Linked DNA regions of Homo sapiens. The protein of the gene in region 2 interacts with the protein of the main gene of each other region in a pairwise test. Each region holds a gene or a part of one and is shown on either strand. Other genes may lie near its edges.

Region 1 (7,761 bases), on a different chromosome or scaffold from region 2:
GAAATCAAACAAGTCCCTGCAGCCTGGACACCAAGGAAGGGCTAGAGGTGGTACCAGCTGACCCCCTCCGGGCTTGTACCAGGAGCCGGGTGCACCTCCAGGGTGTTCTCATCCCACCCCACTCTACTCCTTACAGATCTCCTGTGCCCAGTCTCATGGGCCCCGCCGGGCATCCAGGGAAAGGGATTTCTCTCCAGGCCTGGGGTCCATATCCCCAAGGCCCTGCCACTCTGAACAGGCACACTAAACCACGCCAGGGCTCCCAGAAACAGCCCTAATAAGGTCATGTTGGTGGCAGGTGTCTGAACTCACTCCTCTCCCCAAAAATCCTGACTTCCCATTCACCATTCCACCTCCCTTCAGCCAAGGCCCAGAGAGGGCCCAGAGAGGGGCAGTCACTAGCCAGAAGTCACACAGCTGAGCCCCAAACGCAAACCTGGATCACAGATGCTGATTCTGAAGACACCCCCCCACCCCTTCGTGCCAAGCACCTGCAGGCAAAGACCAGGTGAAGTCCAGCCAGGCCCCACGCAGGTGGGGATTCACTTCCCCGAGGGTACTGGACCCATTTTCGACACGAGGTGAAGCCCCTGTATCTCACACACAGACGGACCTGGGACCCCTAAAAAGTGGAGGGTGATTGCCGGCTGTCGTGCACACGGCTTCTCAATTCTCACCCTCCAAGGAAAGCCCGCAAATGGGAAATACCCCCGAGGTACCCCAGGGACCCCAACATTCTCCAACCTGTAAAAAAAGAACTGGGGATGCGTCATGGTCCTGCTCTGTTGACAGCAGGGAAACTGAGGCTCAGGGCCAGGTGAAAACCCAGCCCCAGCCCCTCCTTCACCCCTCACTTCTCCCGTGCCCAGGTTTCCCAGAGATTTAAAAATAAGAAGGAAAAAAAAAAAAAGATGAAGAAGAGTCACCAGGATGCTCCAGTCCCTGCACCCCCACCTGTCTCTCCGACCTAGAGCTCAACCAGCGGCCTTTCAATGCAACCGTTTGGGGGGCCATGTGGACTCCCCCATTCCCACGGGAATCTTTCTAGAAATGGGTGCTTTGGGTGTACCCAGGGGTGGGGGCGTGTGGGAAAAGCCCACCTATCACCTCTGGACTCCAGATATTGACTTATGGGGGCCGCATGGGAGCCCCTCTGCCCTCCTAGGCCACATGGAGGAGTTAGATTTTTCAGGCCCAATTTTGTGTGTGTGTGTGTGTGTGTGTGTGTGTGTGTGTGATGGTTGGTTTTGAAAAGAGATGGGGAATGGGGAGGGGTTTCTTTCCTCCCTCAAGATAACCAGCTGGAGGGTCTAGCTGAAGTGACAGGCCTGGGCCCCATCTCACCAGACCCTCCCTAGGGCCTTCTTGAACCCCTTCATTCATTCATTCATTCATTCATTCATTCATTCAATTCATTCATTCAATAAACATGCATTCATGCTTACCGGGCACGCAGCGCTGGGGAAAAAGTGGGTGTAAAATAGGTCATGGGCCCCGGTCCTTCCCCAAGGCCTCTCCAGGGTCTTCCTGGAGGATGGGAGGGGGAGGGCCGGGGGTGTCCAGCACAAGGCCTTTGAAGTGGCACCCCCAGTCCCCAACACCTGACCGGAAGGCTGTCAAAGCCACCCCAATTCAGACGCTGGGCCCATGATGGGAACCAAGGGCTGGGGATACAATTGCCGGACACCCCCACCCGGGATGCCATCGGAGGGAGAATCCAGTGGGAGGGAGGCAGACAGGCCTGAGGCCGCCCACGCCTCCCTCCTCCTCCCTGTCCACCCCAGAATTTGGGCTCTGCCCAGATGGACACGTCCAAGCTCATTGTCTTGGGCCTGAGACCCCAACACATTGCTAAGAGGCTCGGCCAGTTTCAACTTGAGCCCAAGGTGGAGGCGGGGGAGGGGGAGGGCAGAGAAATGGAGGAGAGAATGCTGATCCACGCGGAGGTGGTGGGGCCAGGGGGTGGGCAGCGACGGGAGCCTCTCCGCCACCCGAGGCAGGCGAGGCGGGCGCGTCCCCCCGAGCCGGGCGCCCCCAACCCGTCTTCCTTTGTAGTTACCGATTAGCCTGGGGTCCTGGGCATCCGTGTCCCCCGCGGCCGGACCTGCCCCGCCGGCCTGGCTTTGTGAAAATAACCAAAGCAATGGAGTCCGCAGGTGCAAACTTCCCCGACGGGGCCTGGGGAGGCTGAATGAATGGGGGTGGGGGGGCAGGGAGGGGTGCCGGCGTTCCCGAGGCTCCCCTGGCAAACGGGCAGGAAAGAGTGGGGTGAGGGAGGGAGGAAGGGGTGGGGGTCTGGGGGATGGAAGGGTGAGGGAGGGAGGGAGGGAGAGAGAGGGTGCTGTGGGGGGAAGGATGAGAGGTCGAGGGAGATGGGAGAGAAGAGAAAGGGAGAGAGAGAGGGAGAGAGAGAGGGAGAGAGAGAGGAGATGCCGGAAGGTGGGGAGGGAGGGAGAGGGGGCGGAGGAGGGGAGGGGGCCCGCTCGGATCTGTCAGCTGCACCCCCAGAGAGGGGAGGAGGGGTGGGTGGGAGGGAGGGGGTAAGAACCGATGCTCCGGCAGAGGCAGGCAGAGGAGGGAGGTGAGCAGAGGAGGGATGGTGATGGGGGAGAGAAGATGCCGGAAGGTGGGGTGGGAGGCGGAGGGAGGGGGAGAGGGGGGAGGGGGCCGGGCGCCCACCTTTGTGCATCCCCGTGTAGGGGTCTTTGAGCACCGTGAGCTCGTAGATGCGGCCGAACTGCTCGAAGAGCGGCTTGAGGTCCTTCTCGTCCAGGTGCCGCGGGATCTGGCCCACGAAGAGTTTGATGGCGTCCAGGTCCTTCATGCCGTCGGGCTGCCCCCCGGGGGGCTCGGGCCCGCTGCTGCCCACGGGCGAGGGCCGCGGCTGCAGGAGCTGCTGCTGCTGCCGGCGCGCCTCGCTCTCCGTCAGGCGGGCCATGGCGGGCGCGGGACCGAGCCGGCGGCGGCGGCGGCGGGCGGCGGGCGGACTCGCAGCTGGAGCGGCGGCCGCGCCTCCCGCCTCCCTCCCGGGCCCCCGCGCCCTCCTCCCGCCCGCGCCCGCCCCGGCATCGGGACCACAAAGGCGGCTCCGCAGCGGCCCCTGGCGGCCGCGCCGCGCGGGGCAGCCGGCGCCTCCCCGCATCCCCGGGCCGCGGGGGGAAACTGAGGCCGGAAGGCCCCGGGCCCCGCCTACGGGTGGGCGAGGGCGGAGCTGCGGGCGGGACGGGCCTTAGCCGGCTTCCCAGGGGTCCCCGCCGGCTCCCGCGGAGGGCATCGGCCGGAAGAATGTCAAAAGTTGCTGGGATAATGTAGGGGGCTTGTCGTTGAAAGCGCCCGTGATCCTTAAAGTAGGTAACTCATCAATAATATTAATAACACTAATAATATGGCTGGGCGCGGTGGCTCACGCCTGTCATCTCAGCACTTTGGGAGGCCGAGGTGGGTGGATCACTTGAGGTCAGGAGTTCGAGACCAGACTGGCTAACACGGTGAAACCCCGTCTCTACTAAAGAATACAAAAATTAGCTGGGCTCGGTGGCGGGGGGTGCCTGTAATCCCAGCTACTCGGGAGGCTGAGGCAGGATAATCACTTGAACCCAGGAGGCGGAGGTTGCAGTGAGCCAAGATTGTGCCATTGTACTCCAGCCTGGGCAACAAGAGCAAAACTCCGTCTTGGTAAAAAAAAAAAAAAAAAACACCTAATAATAACAACACTAATAATAATTAATCAAGAGCAAGACAAAGTGCTCCCACTAATCACGACAGCACAGGAGAAATGGTAAAAGTATCTTCCAGTTCTATAGGGTGCTTACACATAGAAAGTGTCCTTGGCCCTTTAAGTATGTAACTCATCAATAATGTCATCAACAAGGAGGGAGACTGGCTCGCACTGATAATGACAGGATAGGAGAAATACTGAAGTATCTCCCAGCTCTAAAGTGCCCGTGATCCTTTACGTATGAAACTCATCAATAATATTAATAAAAATAATAATACGTGCTGGCCGTGGTGGCTCACACCTGTAATCCCAGCACTTTGAGAAGCAGAGTCAGGAGGACCACTTGAGCCCAGGAGTTGGAGACCAGCCTGAGCAACATAGTGAGACGCCATTGCTGTAAAAAATAAGAAAACAGGCCAGGCACGATGGCTCACACCTGTAATCCCAGCACTTTGGGAGGCTGAGGCAGGTGGATCACCTGAGATCAGGAGTTCGAGACCAGCCTGATCAACATGGAGAAAACTCTGTCTCTACTAAAAACACAAAAATTAGCCAGGCATGGTTGTGCATGCCTGTAATCCCAGCTACTCAGGAGGCTGAGGCAGGAAAATCGCTTGAACCCGGGAGGCGGAGATTGCAGTGAGCCGAGATTGCGCCATTGCACTCCAGCCTGGGCAACAAGAGTGAAACTCTGTTTGAGAAAAAAAAAAAAAAAAATCAGCCAGGAGTGGTTGGTGTGCACCGTTGGTCCCAGCTACTCGGAGGCTGCGGTGGGAGCATCGGTTGATCCCTGGGATATTAAAGCTGCAGTGAACCAGGATCGCACCACTGCCTCTGGTCTAGGCGACAGAATGAAATCTTGTCTCAAAAAAAAAAAAAAAAAAAACACTTCCCAAAGATGTCCCATAATTAAAGCCCAAGTCCTTCTTGAGGCCCACAAGGCTCTGCGTGTCCTGTTCTGCCTTGTCCCCACCTTCCCCTGCTCCCTCTCTCCCCCTCCTCACTGCTGCAGCTACACAGGCCTCCTCGCTGTTCCTCTCACTTGTCAGGTGCGGTCCTGCCTCAGGGCCTTTGCACGGGCTGTACCCTTTGTCTGGGATGTGCTCTCCCCAGATGATGTGTGGCTCATTCCTTAATTCCCCATCACTTTCCCCATCTACCTTATCTAAAACCGCTCAGTCACCATTATCTCCTTTCTCAGCCTTCTTTTTCCCTCCACAGAGTTACACCCATTTAAAATTTTATTTTCATTTTTATTTTTATTTTTTTCGAGATGGAGTCTCTCTCTGTCGCCCAGGCTGAAGTGCAATGGTGTGATCTTGGCTTACTGCAACCTCCACCTACCAGGTTCAAATGATTCTCCTGCCTCAGCCACCTGAGTAGCTGGGATTACAGTTGCACCCCACCACACCCAAATAGTGTAAAATTTTATTAACGTACTTATTTATTTATTTATTTATTATTGAGACAGAGTCTCGCTGTGTCACCCAGGCTGGAGTGCAGTGGCATTATCTCGGCTCACTGCAACCTCTGCCTCCCGGGTTCAAGCAATTCTCCTGTCTCAGTCTCCAGTGTAGCTGGGATTACAGGCATGTGCCACCACACCTGGCTAATTTTTGTATTTTTAGTAGAGATGGGTTTCACCATGTTGGCCAGGCTGGTGTCGAACTCCTGACCTTAGGTGATCTGCCCACCTCAGCCTCCCAAAGTGCTGGGATTACAGGCATGAGCTACTGCGCCCAGCCTAAAATTTAATTTTTAATTCTTATTTTATTTATTTTTTGAGACAGGCTCTTGCTGTCGCCCAGGCTGGAGTGCAGTGGTGCAATCTCGGCTCACTGCAACTTCCACCTCCTGGGTTCAAGTGATTCTCATGCCTCAGCCTCCTGAGTAGCTGGGATTACAGGCTCCCACCACCACACCTGGCTAATTTACAATTTTATTTATTTATTTATTTATAAGGCAGGGTATCGCTCTGTCACCCAGGCTGGAGTGCAGTGGCATGATCATAGCTTGCTGCAGCCTTGACCTCTTGGGCTCAAGCGATCCTCCTGCCTCAGCCTCCAGAGTAGCTGGGACCACAGATGTCCATGCCACCATGCCTGGCTAATTTTTAAATTTTTTGTAGAAATGGAGTCTTGCTATGTTGTCCAGGCTGTACGCAAACTTCTGGGCTCAAGCAATCCTCCCGCCTCAGCCTCTCAAAGTGCTGGGATGACAAGTGTGAGCCACCATGCCTGGCTTTAGAGGACATTTTGTGCTCCATCCAGCCAATGGAACACGACTCAGCCATGAAAAAAAAAATGAGGCTCTGACCCAAGCCATACCTTGAGCACATCATGCTTGGTGAAAGATGTCAAACACAGAAGACCACACAGCGTGTGACGCCATTTGTATGAAATGTCCACCCGCGTTAGAGGGGGAACTGAGGCCCAGAGAGCTCCAGTGGCTGGTGCAAGACCACACGGTAAGAGAGCTGGGATGTAAACCCAGGAAGCCAGACTCTGGAGCACACACACTTCCCACCATCCCATACCATCTCCCCACACATCAGGCAGCTGAGCCCCAGTTTCCTTATTTGCCAAGCAGGACTAAAGAGAGAGGAGAGGGACCGGGCACGGTGACTCACACCTGTAATCCCAGCACTTGGGGAGGCCAAGGCTGGCAGATGATCTGAGGTCAGGAGTTCGAGACCATCCTGGCCAGCGTGGCAAAACCCCATCTCTACTAAAAATACACAATTAGCCGGGCGTGGTGGCATGCACCTGTAATCCCAGCTACTTGGGAGGCTGAGGCAGAATCGCCTGAACCTGGGAGGTGGAGGTTGCAGTGAGCCGAGATCGCACCACTGCACGCCAGCCTGAACGACCAAGTGAGACGCCATCTCAAAAAAAAAAAAAGAAAAAGAAAAAGAGGATATGGTGAAGGCCCTGGTCTGGTGTGGACTCATGAACTAAAATGTGGGCTTAGCAGAGTGTCTGGGAGCTTAGCTCAGTGAATGGCTATTCATCATTGCTGTTACTGGCAGCCTCCTGGCCACCCCCAGATGGAACAGAACATCAGAACTGGGTGACGAGCAGAGCTGGGCAAGGGGTCAGGGGTTCTCCCACAACATCCTGCCACTCGGCCCAGCACAGACGCAGGTGCTTAGACTCAGCTGAGGCTTGGCCGGGCACAGCGTGGCACTGGGGCTGGTGGAGTCGGCCAGGAGACATAGGCTTCGTCTCCATGGAGACTCAAGCAGGATGCTCAGAGCCCCGTGAGCCTCTGGTGTTCTGGGAGAGTCCTTAATAAGAATTTTAAAAATCACGCCTGGCCGGGCGCAGTGGCTCACGCCTGTAATCCCAGCACTTTGGGAAGCCAAGGCAAGTGGATCACTTGAGGTCAGGAGTTCGAGACCAGCCTGGCCAACATGGTGAAACCCCGTGTCTAAAATTTGGCCGGGTGTGGTGGCTCATACCTGTAATCCTAGCACCTTGGGAGGCCGAGGCAGGCACATCATGAGGGCAAGAGATTGAGACCATCTTGGCCAACATGGCAAAACCCCATCCCTACTGAAATTACAAAAAGTTGGGCGTGGTGGTGTGTGCCAGTAGTCCCAGCTACTCAGGAGGCTGAGGCAGGAGAATTGCTTGAACCCGGGAGGCGGAGTTTGCAGTGAGCCAAGATCGCGCCACCGCACTCCAGCCTGGGCAACAGAGCGAGACTCCGTCTCAAAAAAAAAAGAAAAATCATGCCTGTAATCCCAGCACTTTGGGAGGCCGAGCTGGGAGGACTGCTTGAGCCCGGGAGTTCCACACTAGCCTGAGCTGTAACATAGCAAGACTCCATCTCTACAAAAAATACAAAAATTAGCCGGGTGTGGTGGCAGGCACCTGTGGTTCCAGCTACTTGGGAGGCTGAGGTGGGAGGATCGCTTCAGCCCAGGGAGGTCCAGGCTACAGTAAGCCAAGACTGTACCATCGCACTCCACCCTGGGCAACAAGAGCAAAACTCTGTCTCAAAAGAAAACAAAATCAAAAGAGAAACTCACAAACTCCTAT
Region 2 (7,001 bases):
CTTGAACCTGGAAGGTGGAGGTTCGAGCTAGCCAAAATCGCACCATTGCACTCCAGCCTGGCCAACAAGGGCGAGACTCTGTCACAAAAAAAAAAAAAAAAAAAAAAAAAGGCCAGGCGTGGTGGCTCACGCCTGTAATCCCAGCACTTTGGGAGGCTGAGGCAGGCGGATCACGAGGTCAGGAGTTCAAGACCAGCCTGACCAACATGGTGAAACCCCCTCTCTACTAACAAAAAAATACAAAAATTAGCTGGGCGTGGTGCTGCGTGCCTGTAATCCCAGCTACTCGGGAGACTGAGGCAGGAGAATCACTTGAACCTGGGAGGCAGAGGTTGCAGTGAACCGAGATTGTGCCATTGCACTCCTGCCTGGGCAATAGAGTGAGACTCCATCTCGGAAAAAACAAACAAAAAGAAATCCAGAAAGATAGCTGTTATTAATTTATAAATGAAGACACTAAAACTCAAAGCGATTAAGCAATTTGTCCAACATCACATAGCTCAGAGAAGAAATTGAGATTCAAACTCAAATCTATTGGAAACTAATTTTCATGCTGTTTGCACTCACTCCGGAACATTGCCTCATAGGCAGAAGGAAAAGAAGAAAACAGAAAGTAAAAGACAAGGGTCTAGAAAACTAAAATGCCCCAGGAAAATGGAGTGGGCCTAAGAATTAAAATAATTATAATAATAATAAAACAGGCGCCAAGGTTAGCCACAAAAAAGAAATAATAAAAGTTCACATTTGTTTTGCTATAGCCTGCCACTTAGAAAAATCTGTTTTATTTTTGTCATGTTCCCGGGGAGGGCAGTGAGAAATAGGAACAAGAATTATACCCATTTCTCCAGCGGATATGGAGTGCAAAAAAAGAAAGAAAGGATATACCCATTTCATAGGTGTCAGTGGGCAAAACTGAAGAAGGAGCAGGCAACATCTGAAAAAGGGTAACTGACCCTCTTTGAGATGAGGACTCACTTCCTGAAGTGGAACCTGAGCCTCCTCAAGCAGGAGTTTTCCCTGACTCCAGTTCCAGTTCACCTGGAGTCACTGACCTCCACACTTTCAAATTTCTTTTATTTTTATCATTTTTTAAATTTATTTATGTGTTTATTTTTTTTTTTGAGACGGAGTCTTGCTCTTTCGCCCAGGCCGGAGTGCAGTGGCGCGATCTCGGCTCCCTGCAAACTTCACCTCCCGGGTTCAAGCCATTCTCCCGCCTCAGCCTCCCGAGTGGCTAGAATTACAGGTGCCTGCCACCATGCCCAGCCAATTTTTGTATTTTTAGTAGAGACGGGGTTTCGCCACGTTGGCCAGGCTCATCTGGAACTCCTGACCTCAGGTTATCTGCCTGCCTCGACCTCCCAAAGTGTGGGGATTACAGGCGTGAGCCACCGTGCCCAGCGAGAATGTCCCCTCTAGAATCCTTCAGCTCAGACAGTCTGTGACAGCGAGCCTTTTTTGAGGCCATAATCCAGATACTTCTGGAAAAGAAAAGAAAATTTCAGGCTAATATGGAGCTGGGTTTTTTAGTTGTCTTAAGGGGGTGGAGCCGTTGTTTGTGCCTGGCAGCATCAACCCTTAGGTCTGGTGAGGGAACTTAGCTAAGAGAGTTCCCACTGCCTGCTGTTCACAGTACATGCTGGCTGGTATCGACAAAGAATGAACCTAAAACACAGGAAATGTTGAATTTGTCTGGGTTAAATTTTGCCTCATGAGAAGATAAAAGATCAGAAGGATTTAAAATGTTCCAGAATGCTTTGCTGGTTTTAAGGAATCATTTTTCCCAAAGGTGGCAAATGCTGCTTTTTAAATTTATGGTTTTCTTGATACCCCTTCAGCCTTTGTTTCTCTCTCTTAGGACTACTACTTTTTAATTAATTTTCACTTAACTTTCCAATACTGATGAAATAAAGAAAAATGAGGGTTATTTATATATATTTTAATAAATCCAGTTTGATTTTTCAACTTAAAAAAAAATTAACTAGAACTGAGAACCAGTCCTGGCCTCACCACCTTGGACTTACACTTAACCTGTGTGATCTCAGTGTCTTCATCTGCAAAATGGGGACAAAATAGCTCATAGGATCATTTTGTAAGGATCACATAAAGTAAGAAGGGTGAAAGTGCTCCATAAAGTAGAAAGGGCCTCACTAATGGAAAGGGATTATGATTTCTTTCTTTAAATGTGAAGTTAAATGGAGGATAAAGGGTGGAGGCACTGATAACATTTTAGCCTTCAATAATCACTTTTTAATATTTATGAGGAGTTTCAAAATCATTTCCCTCTCTTTCATACTGCTTTTCAAACGGCAAGGGTCATTATTTGTCCGGCCCAGTCTGGGATAAGTAACTATCCCAGGGTAAGACACCAGGTCAAGTGCCAAAATACAAATGAGAATTAAGCATAGCAGATGGGTGATTGCTGGGCCCTGAATTTCCTTCCCGTTAGTGAGCTTCATGGAATGCAGGCAAATTTATCTCCATTTCTGTTGTCAATCTTGTAACTTTTAAGTGAGATGAAATTCAGTTGGCTACCCTTTACAGGGACTTTATTTCCCATTGTATTCAAGACTGTCAGCAATGAATATAAACTGTTTGTAAAAATCCCATCGTTAGAATCTTCCAGAAACTGAGGCTGGGAGAGATTAAATATCTTGCTCATGGCCTCACAGCTGGTGAGTGGCAATGCTGGTGCTACAGCCCATGTCTAACTCTGACCACACACTCTTCTTCAGAAAAAAGCCATAATGTAAATAATAATAAGAAGAATAACAACAACAATAACGGCAGCTAACACTGTGTGCTAGGCACCGTTCTAAGCTCTTTGCATGTGTTAACTCAACCAGCAAAGAACCATTTTTGGAACATTCTTTCACTAAAGTAGCCCGGTATTTTTTTCTTTCCCCTCAGCTGAATGACACTGCAACCCGAAATCACAACTCTGTTTTAGGTTCCTGGTGGTGCCTGCTTCCTCTTCTAGTTTGTTTAGTCACAGAATTCGATTCCTGTTGGCCCATTCCGCGCCTACAAACAGGCTTAGCGCTCCACTGAAATGCGGGAGGCTCCTTAACTCTTGTATAAACAGGTAAGGCGGAGGGGGTGGGGCGCGGATTGCGGACATCTGGGTTTCTTGGGAATTGGGATGGGGTGGGGGTTCGAGCCAACTCCCCAGAGAGCAGGCAAGGTGAAGCGAGGGCTTGGCTGCTGTTTCTAAATGCAGTGTTTTTTTGTTCCCTTTCTAGAAACCCTCCGTAACTCTAGGTCAGAGCGCACTAAAATGAGCCACTTCTGAACGAGCAGCGCCCAGGCCCCAGGCCCTGCTGCGAAGGCCCCGGCAAAGGTCAGGGCCCCGTCCGCGTGACGCTCCTGCCTGCGCGCGGCCAAGCCATGCTCGGCCCCAGGTAAGGACGCCCCGGGAGCTCGCCCCGGGAGCTCTCCCCGGGCACGCGGGGGTCGCAGAGATCCCACCTCGTCCAGCGACTTGTTTATGGGGGGAAGAAGGGGAGCGGGGCGGTTCCGATCGGCTTGAAATTCAGCAGCAGGTTCCTAATTTCTCCAACGTGGTTCTGGCTGGGTTTCTCGGAGCAGCCCGAAGGGGGCCGAGCGTCTGACTCGGACAGATGCCCCCAGGTGGAGCAGGTGCCACTTCTGGGTGTCTGAAAGGCATGTGACTTTTGGGGCGGGGAGAGAAGTCCGTCTGGTCAAGTCCCCCAATCTCTGCCATCAAGGCCGATTTTCTTTGAACCTTCAGCAAAGGTATCTGCGCTCCTAAAAAACAACAGGAATGTGGCACTGGCCTTTAGCCAGGGGAGGCTCAGCCAGCAGGATAAAATTTCAGGGCAGATTTACGGGAAGTTGCCGGTGTTGGGAGTAAAAATCTGGTTTGGTGAGTTTAAGGGAAGGGAGTAGACGAGAGACAACCTTGCTACTGTGAGGCGGATGGCCTCGGCAGGGGGCGGGCGGCGGGAGGAGAGAGGGAGGGAACCGGGAAGGGCCCGCAGACTAGACGCTGAGCGCTCCCGTGCGCAGCGCCCCACGCAGCCGGGACGCGGCGCCGCTCTGCGGGTGGAACCGCCGCGCGCTCCCGGCCTCGGGAGCTGAGCCCGAGAGAACTTCGCTGCCTTCGGGTCGCCGCTCCCGCTTTCCACTGTGGAATGTGCAGCTTGGGATAGAGAGAAACCAGGGTTTGGGGAGCGGTCCTCCTGGAGACTTTCTCTCTGCAAGTCTCCAAGGTTAAGCAATTCTGACCCACTGGAATTCCCAGAGCCTGGGAGTTAAGCCTAAAACGCTCTGTTGCTTTAAGCGGCGCGGTGGGGAGTCGCTGGACACTCCTTATTTTGGTTTTACATTAAAAAGAAGGCGGACGAGAAGATGTTGTAGGTGACTTCCTAGCTGTGTTAAGTTGCTCCTGGGCTGTGAATGGTGTTAATTTCTGAAGTGGGCGGCTCCAAAAACTTAACAAGGAAAGGTAAGGTGGTTTTTGGTAGTCCTTCTAACTATTGTCCCTTAATCTTACATTTGGGTCCCAATTTTTGAAGTGTATATTTTTTTCTTATTCTTCTCTCTTTAGCTCTTATCCCTCATGCTATCACTCATCTTCTGTCTCTTGGTATATTTAGTGGGAAATAAAGGGTTTATAAAACGGTTTTAAAAGGGTCAACCTCTGGGAAGGCAGATAATCATATACAGTCAGTCCCATCGTGTTTCCTGTAGTGATGAATCTTTTCCCATAAAAGAAACTGATTTTTTTTTTTCACTCTTGAAAATACATGATTGGACCGCCCAGAAGCACAGGTGACTTTAGACTCAGATTATTACAGTGAGACTGAGGAAGCGTCCTGGACAGGAGGCATCTCATTTAAGTGTTAACCAAGGCAGAGGGGGGTCTTCCTGCAGTAATTTACGTCTGAAAGTAACACTCGGTAGAGGTGTAGTTGTTTCAAATTAAAAATTCAGCCTGTAGAAAAGGGTAGGACTGACGAATTATGACATCTGACAAATTAGCAGTTGACCGGATATTTAAGAAATCAGATAAAATAAATGGAAGTGGAATTTTTCAAATAAATGACTCATTTTTTAATTAGGTAAAAGTTCAGCCACTCTTGGGTACTGTCCCAAGGCATAAGTGATAGGAAGATACCATCTTCAAGGTACTTACAGGCCATTACCGACCTGAACTAAAAATCAAACCTTTTTTTTTTATCTGGTGGTATTTTAATGACTCACTGTTTTCTTTAGCAGGAATATAGATTTTAAAATGTATTCTTTAAAAGTTTTAAGGCAAGGTCATACGAATTTCTCAGGGGAGGGAAAGCAAAGGGTTGACAACCCAACATGAAGGAGTTGCCGAAGTTTTGAGCTCAAAAGGTTGGCAATTAGATCCAGAGCATTTGAGAATTGCAGGTGCCGATTCTAAAAGGTGAAAGGTGGTCAGCGGCGTAACACACAACCTCTAGATAAACCAAAGTACTCAACCTAGAGCATAAGAAGAGATCACTTTGTGGGAGTTTGTGTTGCTATTAATTTAAACAATGATCTTTGTTAGATCAATGACTTGAAGTCTTGGAGGGAACTAAAATCAACCCAGTCTGAAAGGAAAACAGAAGGAAAAAAAGAAAGGAGGAGATGGTTTGGTTTTTAATATTTTTTTCTGGTCTGCTTTACCCTTCACCTTGTTCTGATATACACACTGTTGGCCTCTTTGACTTAATTATTGCATGCTGGAAGGATGGGGTCTCAGAAATTTCCCAAGCACCTAGCTTCATTATTAACTTTCAGTATGTGTCAAATGAAGAAATAAGCCTAGCTGTGCCGTCCTTTACCTGGCTAGGTAGGCCATGCTTTAAATTAATTAGATCAAGATATTCTGAATATCAATCAATTATTAAAGATTTATTATCTTCCTCTTGGTTTTTGCGTTTACAGAAGTTTGTAGGATTGAGAATTCATCATCATCATTTTTTTTACCAATCTCTATATTTTTAATAGTCAACATATTTATTTTTGATTCCCCCACTGTGCTGCTTTAAATTAAATTTTGAAAGAATTCTGCCCAAAGCAGTAGTGATACTGAGGATGAAATAAAGACAGAAAGCAAGGGAACTACATGCTTCTGGACACGTGTTCTATAGACTTGCTCTAACTAGTGTTAAAGACTACTCATTTTTTTCCTCACATGATAAGAACATTCATATTAGACTATTTGGTTTACTGTTCTAGGTAATGATTTTTTAAAAGATTGGGTTAAGATGAAATTATTTTCTTACAAAAGGATTTAATTTGCTTTTCAAATTCTGCTCTGAAGCTCAAGATTAAATCATGTCCCAAATGACTGAGCTTTCATTGCTATAGAAAAGCATTTGGCTATTTCAGTAAGTTTCCGCCTCCACATCTTAAGTCTCTTGATTTTTCAGAAAAGGTCAGGGGAGTGGATATAAGCGTGAAGGGAGGGAGATTTTCTTAAAATTGGACCCAGGCTCAAGTGAAACTGTGATTAGGTAATCCCAGAAGATACATAATTCTGGGGAAAAAAAACTCTGAAGAGGGTTTAAGTTTGGGATTCATGAGACTTAGAAAAAGGGTATGCTTAGAATAAAGGTAGAATTTGTGTGCCAAACTTTGATGAAGTTACAATGAAGACATTAAATGCAGCTTTAAGTGCTTGTCACCGTGATTCCAAGCTACAGGTTATATTGCAGTGTTTCAGCTACTGGCCTGATTAGGAGATATATTTTCTTTCCCTCTTGGGAACAGTCTCTGTGTCTTAATGATGATGCTGATTTTCTGGTTTAATATCATAAAAGGTGTGTGTTGGTCCCAACATTACTGCTCCAAGTAGTGGCTTCAAAGAGCAACTGGATAAAGATTTTCAATAATAGCAATGCAGAGATGACCTGGGTTTCAAGATAGGAGGCCTTTGGAGCCTTCAGAGAATTGTCATAGAAATGATCAGTAACTAATTGCTCAGTTGCCACCTCAAGTTGTTGTTTCCATCTTATGCG

What was found. The genes of interacting proteins can lie anywhere in the genome.
Region 1: the proteins of RBM47 (region 2) and CELF5 interact in binary tests that used the Homo sapiens proteins (3 or more experiments, as listed by UniProt).

The regions. Positions count from the first base shown.
Region 1 is NC_000019.10:3,219,917-3,227,677, reverse strand, and holds the start of CELF5 (CUGBP Elav-like family member 5), read right to left. Parts: upstream 3,018-7,761; 5' UTR 2,939-3,017; coding exon 2,680-2,938; intron 2,401-2,679; exon of another isoform or gene 2,060-2,400; intron 1-2,059. UniProt on the Homo sapiens protein: RNA-binding protein implicated in the regulation of pre-mRNA alternative splicing. Mediates exon inclusion and/or exclusion in pre-mRNA that are subject to tissue-specific and developmentally regulated alternative splicing.
Region 2 is NC_000004.12:40,626,863-40,633,863, reverse strand, and holds the start of RBM47 (RNA-binding protein 47), read left to right. Parts: upstream 1-3,999; 5' UTR 4,000-4,468; intron 4,469-7,001. UniProt on the Homo sapiens protein: Single-stranded RNA-binding protein that functions in a variety of RNA processes, including alternative splicing, RNA stabilization, and RNA editing. Functions as an enzyme-substrate adapter for the cytidine deaminase APOBEC1.